Homo sapiens: one gene and its partners. The protein of the gene in region 1 purifies or fractionates together with the protein of each later gene. This does not show direct contact. Each region holds a gene or a part of one and is shown in the gene's direction. Other genes may lie near its edges. The genes, in order: AGPAT3, VKORC1L1, METTL9, RABL3, CMSS1, SERINC1 and BCL7B.

Region 1 (3,500 bases):
CGCGAGACAAGCTAGGGTTAACAGTGACCCTTGGGTTTCAGCAGAGGCAAACGAAAGTACACTCTGGAGAAAGTCTCATTCAGGCCTGAAGAATCCCACAGATTAAGGAAAATTAAATATGAATTCATAATCAAGAATGACAACGTAAACAGCAGATGTGGACTGAAGATGACCCACTGTGCCCCGACTTGAAAGAGAACCAAGTAGAACTGCTCTCAGTGAGAACTGTAGATATTTTAAAGCAAAAACTTACAGACAGGTTTTGTATCAGATTAGATACAGTTAATGAGAATGGGTACAGAACCAAGTAGAACTGCTCTCAGTGAAAACTGTAGATATTTTAAAGCAAAACCGTATGGATGGATTTTGTATCAGATTAGACACAGTTAATGAGAGAATGGGTACACCAGACATCAATGTGAAGAAATCATCCAGTGACAGTAAAGGAGGTGAAAAATGTGAAATAGGCGTGAAAAGATGTAAGGACAGAATGAGAACCTTCATAAAATAGGGCTTTGGCCCCCATCCCCAAAGGAGAGAACAGGAGAAGCCTCCTGGGAAGAGAGGATGCCTGAGGACCTCCTGAACTGATGAAGGCACGATTTTTCAGATACAGGAAGCACATGTAGACCAAGCAGAGCGAATGCACAGAAATCCACACCTAGGCAGGCCCTGGGGCATCACAGACCATCAGAGACAAGGAGGAGCCGGGCGCGGTGGCTCACGCCTCTAATCCCAGCATTCCAGGAAGCTGAGGCAGGAGGATCCCCTGAGGTCAGGAGTTTGAGACCAGCCTGGCCAACATGGTGAAACCCCATCTCTACTAAAAATATAAAAATTAGCTGGGCCTGGTGGCACATGTCTAATCCCAGCTACTGGGGTGGCTGAGGCAGGGGAATCATTTGAACCTGGTCGGTGGAGGTTGCAGTGAGCCGAGACTGCATCACTGCACTCCAGCCTGGGTGACAGAGTGAGACTCTGTCTCAAAAAAAAAAAAAAAAAAAAAAAGATAAGGAAGTCTTCGAATCCCCGGAGAGGAAAGCTGGAGAACCACGCTGGATGGTCAGCAGTGAGGCCGACAGCAGATTTCTTACGGCAGGCAGCAGTGGCGGGAGAAGGTGGAAGATCCTCAATGTGCTGGAAAATCACCAACCTAGCACCCTGTGTTGTTCAAGAGTACAAATAAAATAAAAAGGTTTTGGTAAACAAAAAAATGAGAGCTTTTACTGCCCATAGATCTTCACTTCAATATTTTTTAAGGATGTGTTTCAGTAAGAACAAAAATTATAAAAGTAGGGTATAATTTTCAAGAAAGAATGGTAGCCAAAGAAATTAGGAGATGGATGAATCTAAACCGTATGTAAAATAAAAACAGTGCTCAGCCGGGCGCAGTGGGTCACGCCTGTAATCCCAGCACTTTGGGAGGCCAAGGTGGGCGGATCACCTGAGGTCAGGAGTTCAAGACCAGCCTGGTCAACATGGTGAAACCCCATCTCTACTAAAAATACAAAAATTAGCCTGGCATGGTGGTGGGCACCTGTGATCCCAGCTCCTCAGGAGGCAGAGGCAGGAGAATCGCTTGACCCTGGGAGGTGGAGGTTGCAGTGAGGTGAGACTGCACCACGCTCAGCTAATTTTTTGTTTTGTATTTTTATTAGAGATGGGGTTTCACCATGTTGCCCAGACTGGTCTCAAACTCCTGACCTCAGGTGATCCGCCCACCTCGGCCTCCCAAAGTGCTGGGATTACAGGCGGGAGCGCCCAGCCCAGGTTCAGATTTTAATGGTAACTTTGTTAAGTATAGGGTAGGAAAAAAGAGAGATCAAACATAGCTTCCAAAGTATTAGAAAAAGATAAAGAAAAAAAGGTAAATCTCTTTTGTTAATGCAAGAAAGTAGAAAGAAAAGCATTAAAATAAGAAATATTGAGGTATACATTAAGATCAATATAAAATTCCCAGATACTTGGGATGACCACAAATACACAAGAAAAGCACTTCAGTAAGAACAGAAATAATCGGCCTCTCCATCTGCTGGGCTTGCGTGGGTATGTGAATTCCGTCTGTGACTTGTTGGATTTGGGATGTTCTCCACTTAGATTTATTTCCATGAATATGTTTGTGGGAGCCTTTCTGCAGTCAGAGGTATGTGGAAGCCTTTGCCAGTTCAGGGGCGCATGGTGAGAGCAGACCTCACAGTGGGTTTGTTTATGTTTGTTTGTTTTTGAGACAGGGTCTTGCTCTGTCGCCCAGGCTGGAGTGCAGTGGTGTGATCTTGGCTCACTGCAATCTCTGCCTCCTGGGCTCAAGCAGTCCTCCTACCTCAGCCTCCTTGAGTAGCTGAGACCACAGGTGTGCACCATCATGCCCAGCTAATTTTTGTATTTTTTGTAGAGACAGGGTTTTGCCATGTTGCCCAGACTGGTCTCCAACTCCTAGGCTCATGTGATCCTCCTGCCTCAGCCTGCTGGGCTGCTGGGATTACAGGCTGAGCCACCGCACCAGCCACAGTGTTTTCTGATGACCCTGAACCACGGTTTTATTTTCAATTCTTCATTCCTGTTCTCATTCCTTAATGCTGGGTGCCTTCTTGCTGCCCATTTTGAACTCACTGCCAGTGTGTCTCTGCTGTCATCTGATGTGCAGAGCTATAGGTGCTGCGGCGAAGGGTGCAGGTTTGGAGCCGTTTAAACAACCTGGCCCAGCCTCCTCACTCCCTGCTGACCTTGGTCAAGGCTTCAGTCTCTAAACCTCAGCTTTCTCATCTGCAGAGCACAGACAAAACCACCTGCCTTTGAGCTGTCTTATAAAGCCTAAATCAATGCGCACAGCAGGTACACAGCAATGCTTGATAAATTGTTACTATTATTGGGTGAATTTTAGGTTTTTTTTGTTGTTGTTGTTGTTTTGAGACAGAGTCTCTCTGTTGTCCTGGCTGGAGCACAGCAGTGCGATCTTGGCTCACTGCAACCTCCATCTTCTGAGGTTCAAGTGATTCTCGTGCCCCAGCCTCCCAAGTAGCTGGGATTACAGGTGCCTGCCACCACATCCAGCTAATTTTTTTTATTTTTAAGTAGAGATGGGCTTTTGCCATGCTTCCCCAGCTGGTCTTGAACTCCTGGCCTCAAGTGATCCTCCTGTCTCGGCCTCCCAAAGTGCTGGGATTACAGGCTTGAGCCACCGCACCCGTCCAGAATTTTAGATTTTTTTAAATCCGTGGTTGAAAAATAGGCTATGGCTGGCTTACTCATTGTGCTTTAGGGAAGCATGTATTTGAGTGAAGGAAATGATAAAAGGAATTTCATATCGGGCCCAGGCGCCGCCCACCCTGCAAGACAGTTTACAGATGCCTGCCCTGACAGCTGTCTGCAGTTAGCCAGCGTCAGCCGAGGGGTCCTGAGATCCGCTGAAGGCTGCCTTTGCATGCCGACAGCAAGGGAAAAGTGCCACATGTCCCTGGGCTTGCCACAGGTGACCTTTGGATGGGACCATTCTCCAGACA
Region 2 (3,500 bases), on another chromosome or scaffold:
AAAGCTACTAAACGTCTTTCATAGCAATTAGAATAAAATTCAAACTCTTCGGCATGGCCTACACACAAGGCCCTAAATAATGTAAATGATTGGACTCGCTCCCAGTTCTCCTGTCACTCTCCTCAATCACCATGCCCCAGCCTCAGTGGCCTTCCTTGGCACACCCACAGCTCATTCCTACCTCAAGGCCTTTGACTTGCCATTGCTCATGAGACCGATTGCTTACCATCACTCAGGATCTCATTCAAAACTTCATTCCTGGAAAAGGTCCTTCCCGACCATCAAGCTAGAGGAGCTTGCTGCACCCCTTCTCTGCCCACAGCTATGGATCTCCAAGTGTGGGCTTCAGACCAGAAGCGTCAGTGTTGCCTGCAAGCATTTCATTTTGTGTTGTGTTTTCTCTGGAAATGCAGAGTCTTAGGCCCCACCACAGACCCACTGAAGGAACAGCTACATTTTAACCAGACCCCAGAGTGATTGTGCTTTAAAAATTTCAGAAGCACTGATCTAGAGTTTCCCCTTCTAATTTTCCTGTGTATCTGTTACAAGGTGTGTCCATTGCTGCAGGTAATCTGGCATTTGTTTACCTGTTTATTATTTCTCTTCCCTAAATAGAATTTAAGGTCCACAAGGGCAGCACCTCGTCTGGCTCGTTCACTTCTGGATCCCCGGCACGTAGCGTCAGTGCACACAGTACATGCTCAATAAGTATTTAGATGAGTGAAAGAATAAATGAATATAATGGAAATTATTTTATGTTCTTTGAAATGTATAACTGAAGGCTGGGTGTCATAGCTCAGCCTGTAATCCCAGCACTTTGGGAGGCCAAGGTGGGAGGATTGCTTGAGTCCAGTACTTCAAGACCAGCCTTGGCACATGGCAAAGCTGCAACTCTATAAAAAAATACCAAAAAAAAAATATATATATATAGCTGGGTGTGGTAGTCTCAGCTACTTCGGGAGGCTGAGGCAGGAGAATCACTTGAACCTCGGAGGTCAAGGCTGCAGTGAGTCATGATTGCAACTGCACTGTAGCCTGGGCAACAGAGGAACATCCTGTCTCAAAAAAACAAAACAAAACAAAACAAACAAAAAGGATTGCATAATTCTACAATAAAAATCTTCATGGCTTTCACTTGTTTGTAAAATCGGGGTGATTTTTCTCTCCCAACATCATCGTTATACAGGGGTTTCATTCTATATCTTGGGCATCAAGTGCTATTAAACTATTGTGGCCTGTGAAGAATTACTTATTTATCCTTGCTTTGGGGCAGTTTGTCTTCAGAACCAAAGTTTAGATTTTGTTTAGACTGATTCTCTACTGACTTAACACCATAACTGGTTTTTTTTTTTTTTTTTAGTATTTAAGAAGCACTCTCGTTCAATCCAGAGTTAACATTATCTTTAAAGGTTTTTTATTCAAAATGAATGTTTGATATTTGTATCAAGTTTTATCAAATAAGTTAACAATTTAAAAAAAATCAGGTTTTAAAAATGTTAAGTCAAATGCAAGATTTAAAGTTAAATTGCAAATAAAAACTGATAGGGCATATAATGTATCCAGTTTTTTACATCTGAGATAGGATTCCAGGAAAGACCTATAGTTTCTGATATTATCCTGCATTTTTTTTTTTTGAAATGGAGTTTTGCTCTTGTTGCCCAGGCTGGAGTGCAGTGGTGCAGTCTCGGCCCACTGCAACCTCTGCTTCCAGGGTTCAAGTGATTCTCCTGCCTTAGTCTCCCAACTAGCTGGGATTACAGGTGCACACCACCATGTCCGGCTAATTTTTTGTATTTTGAGTAGAGACGGGTTTCACCATGCTGGCCAGCCTGGTCTCGAACTCTTGACCTTGTGATCTGCTCGCCTCGGCCTCCCAAGGTGGTGGGATTATAGGTGTGATCCACGGGCCCGGCCCTACATTTAAAAAATACATTCCCAGTATATTTCTTAATGCATATCCTGGTGAAATTTGTGAAGAAACAACTTTTCAATCTATATTCTTTGAGTGAATAAATAGCACAACTTACATTCTATGGTTTTCAACTGGGGGCAGTCGTGTCCCAGCGGATGTTTGGCAATGGCTGTGACTGCATTTTTGGTAGTCACACCTGGGATGGAGGAGTACTGGCAGCATCTAGTTGGGGGAGCTCTGGGGTACTGTTAGTTATGTAATGCACAGAACACCCCACAGCACAAAGAATTATCTAGCCCAAAATGTCAGTAGTCCACTGTTAAGAGACAGTGGACAACTGTCTCCTTCTGCATAGAGAAGTCTCCTTCTGCAAATACTAATGCCATTGGAAAACGAATACTTTGCCCTACCTTCTGGAGAAGAGAATATATAGAAATTGGCAACTGAGAGATTCAGATGGGTATACTGGCACCTTTAGATATGTTCATTTTAGATGATTATTTCTAATCAGAAATCTAGTGACTGGCCTCCCTCTCTTTGGGGCAAATCACTCTCTCAACACAGGACATTTAAGACATTTCACAACTTAGTTGATTTTAGAATTGGATAACGTTCTCAAATAATGATACATTTTTTAAAATAGGGAAATTCAAATATAGGGTTACTGGTTTTCCTTATTTTACAGATGGGGTCGAGGATTTGGTCTTTTGGGTTCCATTTTTGGAAAGGATGGTGTATTAAACCAGCCAAACAGTGTCTTTGGACTTATATTTTATATACTACAGTTATTACTTGGTAAGTATTTATCAATACAAAAATAAGTTTGTTATATTCCGTTTAGTACTTTGTGTCTTTGCCCTGAAGTGTCTTGATGTTAAAGCATGTGTTATTTATAGAACCACTAGCGTGTACAACATTTTTGTGTTATGAAAACTTGATTCACTGAGATTTTTATTATATTATTGTTGAATTTATGTCAATTGCTGTTTAATCATGGAGAGCAGTATCTCATGATGTCCAGAAAAACCAGTCCCATTCCAGGAAATTATCACTCCCATCTTCCCTGTTAACGTTTTTCCTTATTTTATAGACTCAGTGGCCTTGAAAAATATCATATATTAAGGGGACATTAACAAGAAACCATATTCATAATCCCATTACCTTTACATATCCACTATTTCCACAGTCTTCTGCTTTTAAAAATAATTTTTGGGCTGGGTGCGGTGGTGCACACCTGTAATCCCAGCACTTAGGGAGGCCAAGATAGGCAGATCATCTGAGGTTGGGAGTTCGAGACCAGCCTGGCCAACATAAAGAAACCCTGTCTCTACTAAAAATACAAAATTAGCTGGGCGAGGTGGTGCATGCCTGTAATCCCAGCTACTCATGAGGCTGAGGCTGGAGAGTCACTTGAACCCGGGAGACGGAGGTTGTAGTGAGCTGAGATCGCGCCATTGCACTCCAGCCTGGGCAACAAGAGCGAAACTCCGTCTCACAAAAAAGAAATAAATAATAATAATAATAATAACTTGGGGCCAGGTGCAGTGGCTCACACCTGTAATCCTAGGACTTTGGGAGGCCGAGAAGG
Region 3 (3,500 bases), on another chromosome or scaffold:
TCTTGGCTTTGATGTACATAGGAATCACCTGGGGGTCTTGTTAAAATGCAGATTATGAGTTAGTACATCAGGGGCTAGGTCTGAGAGTCTGCTTTTTTTTTTTTTTTTTTTTTTTTTTTTTTTTTTTTAAAGACAGTCCTGCTCTGTTTCCCAGACTGGAGTGCAGTGGCAATCTGGGCTCACTGCAGCCTCCGCCTCCCGGGTTTAAGTAATTCTCATGCCTCAGCCTCCCAAGTAGCTGGGATTACAGGTGTGCACCACCACACCTGTCTAATTTTTGTATTTTTAGTAGAGACGAGGTTTCTATGTTGGCCAGGCTGGTCTCTAACTGACCTCAAGTGATCCATCCACCTTTGCCTCCCAAAGTGCTGGGATTATGGGTGGGAGCCACTGCACCTGGAGAGTCTGCATTTTTAACAAGCTCTTAGACGATGCCAGTGATGCTGAATGCTGCTGGTTCTGGACCACAAAGTAGCAAGACTCCTGGAACCAAGCCCTGAAGCTGAGGGCTTTACGCCCTTAGGCTGAAAAGTAAGATCTTTGCCTTAAACATACTTCGCAGTGGCAAATTTTTTTTGGGAGATATAATTAGTCAGCCCAACAGTGGATGATGGCTTATTTTGAGTGAAGAGTCCTGCATCTGTTCTTAAATAATGTCTAGGTTCACCAGAATTTTATGAACTTATTGTGGAATTCTCTGTCCCCAGAGTGGTTCCCTCATATAAATCCATAGAAAAAGCTTTAGGAGTTTTTTTTGTTTTTTTTTTTTTTCAATCCTTTCTTGGCCATGTTTTCAAGCATTCCTAAGGACCTAGAATCTAAAATGCCAAAGAGAAAAGCAACAGGCTCAATGGTTAAGAAGCCTCATTGGACCACTCAAACCACTGGTTGGGCCCACTTTTCTTTTCCCTTGAGGTTTGGAGCAGTTTCTACTGACTGACTGGATCCCCAGTGTATCATCTGGTCCTAAGTCTTCAGGCACCGCAAGCCATTTCTCAAGATTTCTCAGTTGATTTTCTTCATTGTTTATGTGAAATTGCCATACGTTTGCTTTGGCAAACAGTTGTTATTTTTATATGGGTGGTTGAGTTGATACAACTTGGTCTGACATTTTGTTCCTTAAATTGGTTATATTGAATTTCTGTTCTATACCATTTATTCTTCCTTTGGAATTCAGATGAGTCACTGTAGCAGAGATTCTTATCCTTTCTGGGGTCCTGTAGCTCTTTGAAAGTGATAAAGGTAGGAATCCTCTCTTCAAAAAGTGCTTACATTCAACATTTTGTGTATGATTTTGGGGGCTTCAAACTTTTATTTCCCCTTTCCTCTACCCATAAGACCCTGGTTAAAATTCCGTGCTCTAGAATTTCACAGTTTGATCAAAGAGGCAATGCAGTTAATAAACCCCTTTTGGCTTCCCTTACTTAAAACTCTTCTGCTTTTTCCTTCTGATACCCACCCTGCTTTCAGTCCTTCTTGCCTTGTGTCCCATTCTCAGCTAAAAACTAAATTTTAGGGCCCATCAGTACTTTCCGGTCATGGCAGTGGGAGATAATTACTACAGGTGGCCATCTCTCACAGAAATCATTACTGTAGTACTGTCTTGTATTACCTTAGGATACTTATCAAACTTCCTTTATTTTGGAAAGGAGAAGGCCAAGTAAGGAAAGACTTAGTAGATGTTCCAGAGTTTATTTTATAAGGAAGAGGTGCATCTCTCCGTAGACTCTTAAGTCTAGAGAGAACTTAGATTGTGATCAGAGAACCTAGGATGGTTATTAAACACTAAAGTTAAACCCAAATTAGAGGGTCATATCTCTTCATGGTTTGTGTTTATGGGAAACTTTGTATTGGGCTCAGTATTTTAGGTGATACTGTTTTTCATTGTGCGAGACTGCCCCCCACACTGCAGGAAGTCTAACTTTTCTGGCCTTGCCCACTAAATGGCAGTAGTACCCCCAGGTCCTTGTGATTACTGGAAACTCTCCTGTCTACTCCCATTGCCCCCTAGAGGGCAAAATCAATCCTGGTTGATAAACACTGGGCTTGATGGATTTTGATTTATTTTTTGACAGTGTTAATCTTTTTGTAGAGCCCCTGTTGCTAATGTTCTTTCGAAATAGGACAATGCTTCCCCTCTTTCTCTAGTGCCTTCTTTCTTTCTTTTTTGGAGACAGGGTCTCGCTCTGTTGCCTAGGCTGGAGTGCAGTGTCACAATCATGGCTCACTGCAGCCTTGACCTCCTCAGGCTCAGGCAGTCCTCCTGCCTCAGTCTCCCAGGTAGCTGGGACTAGAGGCTCATGCCACCGTGCCTGGCTAATTTTTGTATTTTTTATAGAGACGGGGTTTCACCATGTTGCCCAGCTGGTCTCAAACACCTGGTTTCAAGAGATCCTCCCACCTCGGCCTCCCAAAATGCTGGGATTACAGACGTGAGCCACCATGCCCAGCCTCTAGTGCCTATAAATGTAGACCAGTCAGATGAACTTGTGAGCTCTGAGCTCAGGTGACCTCTTGTTCTAGAATTTTATAATTATCATGTCAAGATTCCTCACATCCCAAGGAGATGGCTTGGGAAGCACGCTCTGGGAAAATTTAAGCAAAATAACTATTTTGTGACTTACTTTTGGTCCTGTGGCAAGTCAGCATCAGTATTTGAAATTCGCCTCCCCTCAGCCATGCTGCCAGTAGCCTCTTTCTGCTGTGACTGGTTTCTGTGTTAAATTTTGTACAGCTACTTCAGCAAGTTCAGATTTGCTTATTTTCTTACTGTAATATATGAACAATTGAGGATTAAAACAACTTGTCTTTTATGAGACGTGATTTTCTTTGGTAAGCAGTTGTAGTCGGTAGCATCACGTTTAGTGGTCTCTGAGGTCTTTCTCCAAATTTTTAGCATTTCTATGGGGGCAGAAGATTTACTGTAAACTTGGTTAAACTCTCCTATGGCCTTAATGGGAAAAGGAAGGGGGACTTTGTTACATGAACTCCATTATTTGTATTTTTTCCTAAAACTGGTCTTACCTTGGGCACCGTGTTGCATGCATCTTTCCAGTCACTGTATAGCAGCAAACATTCTGTACCTTATGATTGTTTCCAGAGAGCAGCAGTACAGAACAGGTTTCCCTGCCACTTCCTGGACCAGTGGTCCCCAAACTGTTTTCTAGGGTCTGAGGAGGAAGTGCCTCAGGAACTGCTTCAGGCTGCAGAGAAAGGCCTAGAAGTGGGCTGGCCACAGCTCCTGGGCTCCCAACCTCATTCGAACAGCAGCAGCTCTCTTAGGATCTTATGTTATCTGTGAGTTCCACTTCATTTAAAGAAAGGGTTCTGCTGCTTAAAGGAGGGTTGAGAATCCCTGTCCTAGATAAACTAGAATTTCAGAGCTAGAAAACAAGTCCTAAATAGGGATTGCGCTTTATTTCCCAGAGTGATGCTTCCATGAGACTTGGCTGGACCTATAGTTGCTTTTCTGAGGGTTCTCTTCAATCTCCAGTTAAACT
Region 4 (3,500 bases), on another chromosome or scaffold:
ATGTCTTACTCCAATCTTAGGGGGAAAGCATTCATTTCACTATTAAGTATGATGTCAGCTTTAGGTTTTTTTTGTTGACATCATTTATCAGGTTGAGAACATTTCTTTCTATCCCTAATTTGCTGATAGTTTTGTTAATATCATGAACAGATACTGAATTCTGTCAAAAGCCTTTTCTGCATCAATTGATATGGACATGTGGCTGCTTCTTTAGGCTGTCAGTATGGTGGATTACGTTCACTGATTTTCAATACTGGTGGATTACATTCACTGATTTTCAAATATTGAACCAGCCTTCCATTCCTTGGTCATGGTGTATTATTCATTTTATGTGTTGCTGGATTTGATTTGCTAATATTTTGTTGAGGATTTTTATCCATGTTCATGACAGGCATTGGTGTGTAGTTTTCTGTTCTCATAATGTCTTTGACTGGTTTTGGTGTGAGGATAATGTTGGCCTCATAGAATTAATTGGAAGTATTCCTTCCTCTTCTATTTTTTGGAAGAAATTGAGTATATTTGGTGTTATTTCTTCTTTGAAGGTTTGGTAGAATTTACCAAGAGACCATCTGGGCCTGGAGGTTTCTTATTTGAAAGGTTTTTAACCACAAAGTCAACTTCTTTAGTAATTAGGATTGTTCAAGTTATTTATTTCATCTTGGATGAGTTTTTGTAATTTGTGATTTTCAAGGAATTCCATCTATTTCATTAAATTTTTTAATGTATATCAATAGAGTTGTTTATAGTATTTGTTTATTGTCCTTTTGATAGTTGCACAGTTTGTAGTGATATGACCTTTTTCATTCTGATTTTGGTATTTTATGTCTTCTCTTTTTCTTGTCAGACTTGTAGAGGTTTATCAATTGTATTGATTTTTTTCCAAAGAAGCAACTTTTGGTTTCATTGATTTTTCTCTATTGTTTTTCCATATACAGTTTAATTGATTTCTACTCTTATTTCTTTCCTTCTGCTTGCTTTTGGTTTATTTTGTTCTCTATAGCTTCTTAGATTACTTACTGGATACCTTGCATTTTTGCCAATACAAGTATTTTAATGCTATAAATTTCCCTCTAAACACTGCTTTAGCTGCATCCTGCAAATGTTTAAATGTATTACTTTTATTTTCATTTAGTTCAAAATATTTTCTAATACTCCTTGAGATTTTCCCATAGGCTGTTTAGAAATGTGTTGTTTAGTTTCCATGTATTTAGAGGCTTTCCAGTTATTTTTTGCTATTGACTTCTAGCTTAATTTTATTATGATCCAAGAACATACTTTATATGATTTCACTTATTTTATATTTGTGCAACACCCGGTATGTGACCTGGGTGTTGTTGTCTCTGTTGTTTCAGTTTTCAGTGTCTTTGGTACACTAAGTAGGATCAAATCCATGCATGCACAGCTTTGGCAATGAGCTCAAGCATTCACGAACTACTTCATGGGGTTGCTTTCTCACACTTCACCCTGTCTACAGTCTCTGCCATACTTTGTGATTTGCTGGGGCTCCCTTTTTCGGTCCCCAGGCCAAATTTTCTCATGCACTTGCACAACTGCACCTATGTCCAGGGCCAAGTGGTAGAAGGACAAAGAATAAAAGCAATGGGAGTTTGCCCCACTGTCTTGAGATACAGTTCCATCAGTCAGAAAAATTTCCCTTCTGGGCCCGGCGCGGTGGCTCACGCCTGTAATCTCAGCACTTTGGGAGGCCAAGGCGGGCGGATCATGAGGTCAGGAGATCGAGACCATCCTGGCTAACATGGTGAAACCCTGTCTCTACTAAAAATACAAAAGATTAGCCAGGCGTTGTGGCGGGCGCCTGTAGTCCCAGCTACTTGGGAGGCTGAGGCAGGAGAATGGCATGAACCTGGGAGACGGAGCTTGCAGTGAGCCGAGATCACGCCACTGCACCCCAGCTTGGGCAACAGAGTGAGACTCCGTCTCAAAAAAAAAAAAAAAGAAAAATTTCCCTTCCTCTGTATTTGTAAGCAGGCGTTCCCAACCCCTGGTCCATGGCCTGTTAGGAACCAGGCCACACAGTGGGAGGTGAGTGGCAGGTGAGTGAGCATTACCATCTGAGCTCCACCTCCTGTCAGATTAGCAGAGGCATTAGATTCTCATAGGAGCGTGAATCCTATTGTGAACTGTGCATGTGAGGGATCTAGGTTGCAGGCTTCTTATGATAATCTAACTAATGCCTGATGATCTGAGGTGGAACAGCTTCATCCTGAAACCATCCCCCAAACACCTGTCCATGGAAAAATTGTCTGCCATGAAACTAGTCTCTGGTACCAAAAAGGTTGGGGACTGTTGTTTTTGAGCATTCTGCTTGTGTTATAGCCTTTGCCACAACTGTCATGAAATTGCTCAGAAGCTGGCTTACAACAGAAGGAAAAATATTGTATTTCTACACTATCTCCAAGTATTCGTGTGTCCCCTTTCTTGTTTCATGAGCCAGAACTATAGGCCTTCTTCTGGAGTATTCTGTTCACACTTTTGGGTTTTAAGCTGAGTTGCATTCAGACAAGGGGATATGGAAGGAAACTGCTAATTCAATGGTTCTTCACATTGCAGTCTTCCTTAATATGCTCACTATTAATTTTTCAGAGTCCTCAAATAGCCACTTCATGTATCCTGTCCAGGTTTTATAGTTGCATTCACTGGGAAAGACAGGATAGAGTTTGCTTATTCTGTCTTACCTAGAACAGAACCCCATTTTCTATCTTTTGATTGAAGCAAGTCTTTCAAAGGCTTTGTTTTCTGTGTGGAAGTCTAATTGTTATGTGAAACCTAAATATAGTATAAGTTTGAGTATATATATGTAGATTCCAGCAAGACCTAATAAAGAATAAGCACAACTAATTTAAAACCTATATTTCAAAGCCTCATTGATATTTATTTCCTATCTCAATTCCTTTCATCACTGATGTCTTCATTAACCTAGCTTGTTCTCTATTTTCTACTAAAATTTCTACTTAAGAAACTTATCCTTAAATTTAGGGTTAGGAGACAGCATATTCATATCAGAAAGAAATCTGCATTTTTGTCAGGGAATTCAGTAAAAGTTCTATACCCATTTGCATTTTGACACTACAGTTTCATTTTGATTCTATAGATAAACCTGCAAATGTATAAAACAACCTTAATACATTGGTGTGCTTTGTTGGTGCATTATTGTATAGCATCAAAAAATTTGGAAACAACCCTAGTGTCCGAGCAACGAAAGATTCATTGAATAAATAATGGCATATCCACATACTGGAGTAGTATTCAATGTTTAAAAAAGAATCAGGAAGATCTCTATGAACTAAAATAGAAAGATCTACAGAGGGTACATTATTAGGTTTAACAAATCAAAATGCAGAGAATATATATCGTATACCTCCTATTGTATAAGAAAGAAAAGAAATAATATGTATTTATATTTGGATAAAGAATCAGTGAAAAATAAGAAACTAATAAAAATGGTAACCTATAGGGGGCCAGGGGAGATGGGTGGATGG
Region 5 (2,185 bases), on another chromosome or scaffold:
TAATCCCAGCACTTTGAGAGGCCAAGGCAGGTGGATCACTTGAGGCCAAGAGTTCAAGACCAGACTGGCCAACATGGCAAAACCCTGTCTCTACTAAAAATACAAAAATTAGCCAGGTATCATGGCACACACCTCTAATCCTAGCTACTCAGAAGGCTGAAGCATGAGAATCACTTGAACCTGGGAAGCAGAGATAGCAGTTAGCCGAGATCACGCCACTGCACTCCAGCATGGGCAACAGAATGGGACTCTGTCTCAAAATAATAATAATAATAATTTTAAAAATTTCAACTCTGAATCAAATGTGTGTTAGGACTTTTGCACTCTCTGATTCTGGCCATAACAGCTGGGTAAATATCAGGGAGTCCTGATGGTTGAATGTATTCACCAAGACCATTTTGGCTTGATCTTAATCTTTTTTTCCCCCCTTTTCTCTCATTTAGATAAGAAAGGAGGTATTCGAACTTCTGGAAATGGGAGTGCTCAGTCTGTGCAAGTCAGAATCCTTGAAACTGGGCCTTTTCTAAGTCTGTGTCCTAATGAAGATTCCAGTTTTCACAGTAGAAGTTGCATCTTATTTAATGACTCTGATACATTGCAAGCACTCAGTAAATATCAGCAAATAGTTTATGTTAATTGTGTCAACAGATGGATCACTGGAATGTGGGGATTCTGAAACAGAAATGAAACTGTCCTTTTGACAACTCTCTTATATAATAAAGTATCACCGGCTTGTGTATGATCCTTGTTGAGCGGACCGTGTTTTTCTGTCACCAACTGGCTTCTGATGTAACTGTGCAGGAGAAAGGAAAGAGCAGCTGGGTGACCTTAGGCAAGCGTAAGGTCTTGCCTCTCTGAGCCCCATCTTATCAACTCAAAGTGGGAATGTCTCACAGCATTGTTGAGGATTCCAGGAGATAGTACATGGGGAGCAGATTTGTAAACTCTGAGGCATGGTCCCAGCAAAAAGGGTGGCAGGTATATTAATCCATTCTCACATTGCTATAAAGAACTACCCGAGACTGGGTAGATTATAAAGAAAAGAGGTTTAATTGACTCACAGTTTCACAGGCTGTACAGGAGGCATGGCTGAGAGGCCTCAGGAAACTTGGCAGAAGGTGAAGGGGAAGCAAGCACATCTTCACATGGCGACAAGAGAGCAAGAGAGTGAAGGGAGAAATGCCACACACTTTTAAACGACTAGATCTTGTGAGAACTCACTCCCTATCATGAGAACAGCAGAACAGCAAGGGGAAAATCTGTCCCTATGATCCAGTCACCTTCCACCAGGTCCCTCCCCCAACATTGGGAATTATAATTCAACATAAGATTCGGGTGGAGACACAGAGCCAAACCATGTCAATTCCACCCCGGCCTCTTCCAAATTTCATGTTCTTCTCACATTTCAAAACACAATCATGCCTTCTCAACAGTCCCCCAAAGTCTTAACTCATTCCAGCATTAACTGAAAAGTCCAACTCCAAAGTCTGATCTGAGACAAGGCAACTTCCTTCCACCTATGAGCCTGTAAAATAAAAAACAAGTTAGTCATTTCCAAGATACAATGGAGGTACAGGCATTGGGTAAATGCTCCCATTCCAAGTGGGAGAAACTGGCCCAAAGGAGCTAAAGGCCTCATGCCAGTTTGAAACCCAGCAGGGCACTCTTTGAATCTTAAAGCTCCAAAATAATCTTTGACTCCATGTCTCACATCCAGGCCACTCTGATGCAAGGAGTGGGCTCCCAAGGCCTTAGGCAGCTCTGCCCCTGTGGCTCTGCAGGGTACAGTCCCCATGGTTGCTTTCACAGGCTGGTGTTGAGTGCCTACAGCATATCCAGGTACACAGTGTAAGCTGTCAGTGGATCTACCATTCTGGGGTCTGGAGGATGATGGCTCTCTTCTCACAGCTCCACTAGGCAGTGCCCCAGTGGGGACTCTGTGTAGGGTCTCCAACCCCACATTTCCCCTCTGCACTGCCCTAGTAGAGGCTCTCCATGAGGGCTTCACCCCTGTAGCAGACTTCTGCCTGGACATCCAGGCGTTTCCATACATCCTCTGAAATTGAGGCAGAGGCTCCCAAACCTCAGCTCTTGCCTTCTGCACACCCATAAGCCCAACAGCACGTGGAAGCTGCCAAGGCTTGGGGCTTGCACCCTCTGAAGCAATGGTTCAGCTGTACCTTGG
Region 6 (3,500 bases), on another chromosome or scaffold:
CAGAAAGAAGTATAATTCTAACCAGGTGTCAGAATCTCAATGGGTCATGGAAAAAAGGATGTTCTAAGAATGATTAGAACTTGCATATACAGAGATTGAAAAATAGAAAGCATAATGAGTATAAAAGAGCTTTTCAAGCAAAGTATCTATACTTTAGGAAGATTAATCTTACAATTAATAAAGTATAAAAGTCAAGCAGTTAAATATGGAGGCTGTTGCAGTGGTATAATCAAGAAGAGAATAGCGGACCTGAAATAAGATTTTCTGGATGTAAAATTGACTGAGCCTAGCACTGAAATATTGGCAGTGATATGGAATCATAAATAACAACCAGGTTCTGGTCCTACAAAACCGGGAGGAAAGTATTGCTATTAACCTAGAAAGGAAAATTTTTAGAGAGAGTCAGGTTGTGGAAGGAGATTGGGAACACATAATAAATTTAGTTTCTAACATGTTGACTTGGTGGTATTGTATCGTGTACATGTATATATATATATATATATGTATGTCTTACTCAGTTCAGGCTGCTATAACAAGAATATCATAGGCTGGGTGGCTTAAGACAACAAAAATTTATTTCTCAGTTTTGGAGGCTGAAAGTCCGAGATCAGGGTGCCACCATGGTCAAGTTCTGATGAGGATCTTATTCCTGGTTTACACATGGCCATCTTACATTTTTGAAAGAAAGCAGCAGCTCTCTTCTGTCTGTTTTTATAAGGGCATTAATCCCATCCTGAGGGCTCTACCCTCATGATTTAATTACCACATAAAGGCCCTATCTCCCACTATCCTCCCATTGAGGGTTAGAGTTTCAGCATTTAATTTTGGGTAGACACAAACACGAAGTCCATAATAATATACAGCAGTAAGTAGAAAACATGAAGGAATTTAAAAGAGAAATCAGAGCTAGAGACTGCCTTGAGGATAGAAATTGAATGTTGAAACCATGGCAGCGTATGCTGAAGATCATTCAGAGTGAGCAGAGCTAGAACTCTGCCAAAATCTCTTACTTAAGGGAGTTAGTGGAGAAAGGAAAACCTGATTCTGATCCTAGAAAACTGGGAGGGAAGGGATAACAGAAAAGAACAAAGAAAATGTATAGGTTCTAGGAAGAAAGTTTTAAGAATGACAGGGATAGTGTCTATATAAAAATGAGATTAAGGAATGTGATTAAGCAGTAGCCTTTGGGTTTGGAAACCAGTACATGACTAGTATCCTGGAAAAGCAGTTTTTTTAGAGTGCTGGGACTGGAAAGAGTGGGAGGAAATAATTTATTCTTATATATATGAATAATAGATGTATTAATAGTTCTGAACAGTAGTCTCAGAAATAGCACTTACACTACTAAAACAAGTCTATCGTGCTATTCAAGTAGAATGCAAGTTTTTAAAATGTAGGATAAATCTATAACTCAAAATAAGCAACCAGCATAGAGTTGGTATTGTAGTTTATGATTTGCGCAGATGGGGATTTAACTCTTTTTTCCCCACTGTATGTGATTAAAATGTATCAGACTCATCTTGAGTACATATTCATCATAAATTGTAAAGCAAATGCCAGTTTTCTAAACCTTTACTTAAACTATTTGATTACATGTAATTTTTATTTTTACTTAATGAAAAAAAATGATGGATCATAAACTCTTTTGTTTTTCTAGATTCCTGGATTTTGTGAGAATGAGAAAGGTGTTGTCCCTTGTAACATTTTGGTTGGCTATAAAGCTGTATATCGTTTGTGCTTTGGTTTGGCTATGTTCTATCTTCTTCTCTCTTTACTAATGATCAAAGTGAAGAGTAGCAGTGATCCTAGAGCTGCAGTGCACAATGGGTAAGTTTTTAAATAAGCTTCAATATAAAAGCTTGGGTAGCCTCTTCTTGATAATTGCCAGTTTATCCAAGGAAACTTTAAGGTAAAATAAACTTATACAATTTGCAGAATTACTTTATTCATGAATGACAGGATAAGAAAATCTTGTTTTTACTGGAGAATGTCAGACTTTGGATATTAAATAATAGCTGTGATAACCTCTGATCCACAGTGTTTTATATTTTCATACTAAAAAAGAGGCTCTATTATATTTGTGACTACTAAGGGAATAGCTATTTCTCCTTCTACTGTTAACTTTAGGTGGACCAGTCCACTTACATAGAACTCTCAGTTCCCTAGACCCAGAGAGCAGATTTTTCTAGGTTGGTTGTATTGGACAACCCAGAAAGAAACTTCAGGGTTTCTTTTATCAATCTTCCTTCATATAGAGCACTACTTCTGGTACCCTTATTTGACTGTTTTAATATCTGCTGTTGCTTATCTAGTTATATGTGCTACCAAAGACAAAAAGTATAAACAAGTAGAATATAAATATTAATGAGAAAATATGTGACGGGTTGCTTTTCCTTTATTTTGTTCCTTTGGTCATTGATTATTTTATTAAATTATTAGAGTTTTAGATGGAGGCATTTATCATGTGTTTATAAAAACTATTCATTTATACAGTTCACCTTATACTTTGATACATTATCCCACTTATGTGAAATAAGCCTGTGAAATGGAACTAACATTCTCATTTTTCCATAATGAATTAGTGAGAAATACATCTTTCTCAAAATGGTCTTAAAAGCAGTTTATGTAATTGTTGTTTTTTCTGATAATCAAGTGTATTAGGGTTCTCTAGAGGGACAGAACTAATAGGATAGATAGATATATATAAAGGGGAGTTTATTAAGTATTATCTCACATGATCTCAAGGTCCCACAATAGGCCATCTGCAAGCTGAGGAGCAAGGAGAGCCAGTCCTAGTCCCAAAACTGAAGAACTTGGAGCCTGATGTTCAAGGGCAGGGAGCATCCAGCACAGGAGAAAGATGTAGGCTGGGATGCTAGGCCAGTCTAGTCTTTTCACTTTTTTTTTTTGCCTGCTTTATATTCTAGCCCTGCTGGCAGCTGATTAGATGGTGCCCACCCAGATTAAGGGTGTGTCTGCCTTTCCCAGCCCACTGACTGAAATGTTAATCTTCTTTGGCAACACCCTCACAGACACACCCAGCATCAGTACTTTGCACCCTTCAATCCAATCAAGTTGACACTCAGTATTAACCATTACAAGTCAGTACTTTGCATCCTTGAATTCAATTGACACTCAGTATAACTATCAGAAGTCTACCCATTGTCAACTTGAACCCGTATACATCTCCTGAGATCATACATAATCTGCAAATAAAGACAATAATAAGGTCATACAACTAACCTTACAACTGAAAACGCACCAGTCCCCAACCAAAATACTAATTACATAAAGTTAACAATACTTAAATGCTGATGTGAAGTCAGTAAATCTTATGTCACATGATAAAGGAGAATGGAAATAAAATGAAGATATTTTCTTAGTACAAGTATATGCATGCATGAACATGTTTTTGACAAAACAAGGAGGAAGTACTCACAACAATTACAGCCCTCGTTTCTGCAGCTGGACATGTGGTCATAGCTGGTATTGATGACTGC
Region 7 (3,500 bases), on another chromosome or scaffold:
ATTTTACCTGTATATGAAATTCTAGGTTCAAAATTATTTTCTTTCAGCACTTTGAAGCTATTACTGAATTGTACATCCAGTGTCGCTGTTAAGAAATGTGATGTTATTCCCATGCTTGAGTCTTTGTAGGTGATCTACTTGGCTTCCTGGAAACTTTAGCATTTCTTCTATATTTGATCTCCTAGGAATTCCCTCAAAATATCCTGTAATATTTCTTTTCCTTTTTTTTTGAGACTGTCTCACTCCATAGCTCATGCTGGAGTACAGTGGTGCAATGATGGTTCACTGTAGCCTCAAATTCCTGAGCTCAAGAAATAGTTATGTCTCCACCTCCCAAGTAACGGGGACTACAGGCACGTGCCACCACGCCTGGCAAACTTTTAAATTATTTGTAGAGACAGGGTCTTGCTGTATTTCCCAGGCTGGTCTCAAACTCCTGGGCTCAAGCGATCCTTCTGTCTTGGCCTCCCAAAGTGCTGGGATCACAGGTGTGAGCCACTGCACCCACGCAGCTGCTTGCTTGCTTGCTTTTTTTTTTGAGATGGAGTTTTGCTCTTGTTGCCCAGGCTGGAGTGCAATGGCACAATCTCAGCTCACCGCAACCTCCACCTACCAGGTTCAAGTGATTCTTCTGCCTCAGCCTCGCGAGTAGCGCTTGCCTCACCATGCCCAGCTACTTTTGTATTTTTAGTAGAGATGGGGTTTCTCCGTGTTGTCAGGCTGGTCTTGAACTCCTGACCTTAGGTGATCCGCCCGCCTTGGCCTCCCAAAGTGCTGGGATTACAGGCGTGAGCCACCACGCCTGGCCAACTGCTTTATTTCTTAACTTTTCTCTCATTCATTTCATTTCTTGTCTTTCCTGGTGCATTCTGAGTTTCTCAACGCAGTTTTTGCTCATTAATCTTTTATTTAGCTGTATGTATTTCAATTAACCTCATTCACTTAATTTTTATTTGAGCAATTGTATTTTTCATAACAAATTGCCTCAATTGGTTCTTCCTCAAAACGACTTTTTTTTTTTTTGAGACAGAGTCTCGCTGTGTCACCCAGGCTGGAGTGCAGTGGCATGATCTCATCTCACTGCAGCCTCCACTTTGCAGGTTCAAATGATTCTACTGCCTCAGCCTCCTGAGTAGCTGGGATTACAGGCATGTGCCACCATGCCCAGCTAATTTTTTTCTATTTTTAGTAGAGACAGGTTTCACCATATTGGCTAGGCTGGTCTCGAACTCCTGACCTCAAGTGATCTGCCTACCTTGGCCTCCCAAAAAGTGCTGTGATTACAGGCTGTGAGTCACTGCCCCTGGCTAAAACAACTTTTCAATATTATCCTTATCTTTCTGAGCAAATCCATGTTTAATTTCAGTTATTCTGCTCCTTCTGGTACAGACTGTTCTGTTTATCAGGGTGCCTGTGTTCCTCCAATCTCTGGTGAGTTTTATGCGTGCACTCACCTTTTATTCCCTTGGGACTCTCAATTGCATTGGCTGGTAATGTGTAACTACGAGGAGGACGGAAGCCTGATCCGTAGTTTTTCTTTCTTTTTTTTTTTTTTTTTTGAGATGGAGTCTCGCTCTGTCACCCAGGCTCGAGTGCAGTGGCACGATCTTGGCTCACTGCAAGCTCTGCCTCCTGGGTTCACGCCATTCTCCTGCCTCAGCCTCCCAAGTAGCTGGGACTACAGGCACCCGCCACCACGCTCAGCTAATTTTTTTGTATTTTTAGTGGAGGCGGGTGAAAACCGTGTTAGCCAGGATGGTCTCAATCTCCTGACCTCGTGATCGGCCCACCTCGGCCTCCCACAGTGCTGGGATTACAGGCGTGAGCCACCGCGCCCGGCCAGTTTTCCTTTCTGTAAATGAATTTAGGAGGTTGAGGTTAGCCTCAGGGTTCAGCCTCTCCCTTTTGCTCTCTGCTGTCCTCTCTGGCTCCAGGGAACCTCCTAGCACCAACTGTATGGACTCTGCCTTTATCTGAGAGCAGCCATCCCAAGAAGTTCTAGGATGCCAAACTCATGGAGTTGATGGGGCGTGGTTCTGGAGCAACTGTTTATTCCCCCATCCAGCCTGGCTCTGGCCATTACCCACAGGGGTCAAAGGTCAAGCAGTTAAATCTCTTGGGCATTGTGTATAGACAGGAGTAGATGCTGCTAGAAAACCCCCTTTCCTTGGCCGAGTGCGATGGCTCACGCCTGTAATCCCAGCACTTTGGGAGGCTGAGGCGGGCGGATTGAGACCATCCTGGAGCCAGGAGATCGAGACCATCCTGGCTAACATGGTGAAACCCCATCTCTACTAAAAAATACAAAAAATTAGCTGGGCATGGTAGTGGGCGCCTGTAGTCCCAGCTACTCGGGAGGCTGAGGCAAGAGAATGGCGTGAACCTGGGAGGTGGAGCTTGCAGTGAGCCGAGATTGTGCCATGGCACTCCAGCCTGGGTGACAGAGCAAGACTCTGTCTCAAAAAACAAACAAAAAATTGAGTTATTAACAAAAATTACGTTACTAATATAATGCATCTACCGGAAATGTATAAAAAGTGTGAACTGGTAAATTTGAGGCTACTCAGATTTAAACTTTTGGCTTTTGGGATGCTCTCATTTTCATATGCTTGGATTTACTCTGGGCTTTTTTTTTTTTGAGTTAGGGTCTAACTGTGTTGCCCAGGTTGGAGTGCACAGTCATAGCTCACTGCAGCCTCAAACTTTCAGGCTCAAGCGATCCTCCCACCTCAGCCTTCTCAGTAGCTGGGACCACCAGCCTATGCCACCATACATGGCTCATTTTTTATTTTTTTGTAGAGATGGGGTCTTACTATGTTGCCCAGGCTGGTCTCAAACTCCTGGGCTCAAGGGATCCTCCCACCTCCGCCTCCTCAAGTGCTGGGATTACAGGCATGAGCCACTGTGCCTGGCCCTTGGGCTTTCTTGTTGCAAGCTGGTGCTTACCTGCCCACTGTGGTTGCCCTGCACTTATAACCTACATCTTTCTTGAAACAAATGTTATAGGTAAAAATAAACATGGGGTGATCATTTTGTTTTTTGGGTTTTTTTGTTTGTTTCTTTTTGAGATGGAGTTTCGCTCTTTCGCCCAGGCTGTTATGAAGTGGCAGAATCTTGGCTCACTGCAACTTCCACCCCCCAGGTTCAAGCGATTCTCCTGTCTCAGCCTCCAGAGTAGCTGGGATTACAGGCACATGCCACCATGCCAGGCTCATTTTTGTATTTTTATTTATTTATTTATTTATTTATTTTATTTTTTGTTTTATTTTATGTTTTTTTAGATGGAGTCTCGCACTGTAGCCCAGGCTGGAGTGCAGTAGTGCCATCTTGGTTCACTGCAACCTCCACCTCAAGCAATTCTCCTGCCTCAGCCTCCCAAGTAGCTGGGATTACAGGCACATGCCACCACACTCGGCTGATTTTTGTATTTTTAGTAGAGATAGGGTTTCACAATGTTGGCCAGGCTGATCTTGAACTCCTGACCTCAGGTGATCCATGCG

What was found.
Region 2: the proteins of AGPAT3 (region 1) and VKORC1L1 purify together in Homo sapiens (affinity purification with mass spectrometry; one large-scale study listed by BioGRID and IntAct). This does not show direct contact.
Region 3: the proteins of AGPAT3 (region 1) and METTL9 purify together in Homo sapiens (affinity purification with mass spectrometry, with the first as the bait; one large-scale study listed by BioGRID). This does not show direct contact.
Region 4: the proteins of AGPAT3 (region 1) and RABL3 purify together in Homo sapiens (co-immunoprecipitation; 2 studies listed by BioGRID and IntAct, with this or other methods). This does not show direct contact.
Region 5: the proteins of AGPAT3 (region 1) and CMSS1 purify together in Homo sapiens (affinity purification with mass spectrometry; one large-scale study listed by BioGRID and IntAct). This does not show direct contact.
Region 6: the proteins of AGPAT3 (region 1) and SERINC1 purify together in Homo sapiens (affinity purification with mass spectrometry, with the first as the bait; one large-scale study listed by BioGRID). This does not show direct contact.
Region 7: the proteins of AGPAT3 (region 1) and BCL7B purify together in Homo sapiens (affinity purification with mass spectrometry; one large-scale study listed by BioGRID and IntAct). This does not show direct contact.

The regions. Positions count from the first base shown.
Region 1 is NC_000021.9:43,962,723-43,966,222, forward strand, and holds part of AGPAT3 (1-acyl-sn-glycerol-3-phosphate acyltransferase gamma), read left to right. Parts: intron 1-3,500. UniProt on the Homo sapiens protein: Converts 1-acyl-sn-glycerol-3-phosphate (lysophosphatidic acid or LPA) into 1,2-diacyl-sn-glycerol-3-phosphate (phosphatidic acid or PA) by incorporating an acyl moiety at the sn-2 position of the glycerol backbone.
Region 2 is NC_000007.14:65,946,074-65,949,573, forward strand, and holds part of VKORC1L1 (vitamin K epoxide reductase complex subunit 1-like protein 1), read left to right. Parts: intron 1-2,597; coding exon 2,598-2,707; intron 2,708-3,500. UniProt on the Homo sapiens protein: Involved in vitamin K metabolism. Can reduce inactive vitamin K 2,3-epoxide to active vitamin K, and may contribute to vitamin K-mediated protection against oxidative stress.
Region 3 is NC_000016.10:21,613,077-21,616,576, forward strand, and holds part of METTL9 (protein-L-histidine N-pros-methyltransferase isoform 1 precursor), read left to right. Parts: intron 1-3,500. UniProt on the Homo sapiens protein: Protein-histidine N-methyltransferase that specifically catalyzes 1-methylhistidine (pros-methylhistidine) methylation of target proteins.
Region 4 is NC_000003.12:120,701,017-120,704,516, reverse strand, and holds part of RABL3 (rab-like protein 3), read left to right. Parts: intron 1-3,500. UniProt on the Homo sapiens protein: Required for KRAS signaling regulation and modulation of cell proliferation. Regulator of KRAS prenylation, and probably prenylation of other small GTPases. Required for lymphocyte development and function. Not required for myeloid cell development.
Region 5 is NC_000003.12:100,177,862-100,180,046, forward strand, and holds part of CMSS1 (protein CMSS1), read left to right. Parts: intron 1-443; coding exon 444-527; 3' UTR 528-2,185.
Region 6 is NC_000006.12:122,454,808-122,458,307, reverse strand, and holds part of SERINC1 (serine incorporator 1), read left to right. Parts: intron 1-1,657; coding exon 1,658-1,827; intron 1,828-3,500.
Region 7 is NC_000007.14:73,544,191-73,547,690, reverse strand, and holds part of BCL7B (B-cell CLL/lymphoma 7 protein family member B), read left to right. Parts: intron 1-3,500. UniProt on the Homo sapiens protein: Positive regulator of apoptosis. Plays a role in the Wnt signaling pathway, negatively regulating the expression of Wnt signaling components CTNNB1 and HMGA1.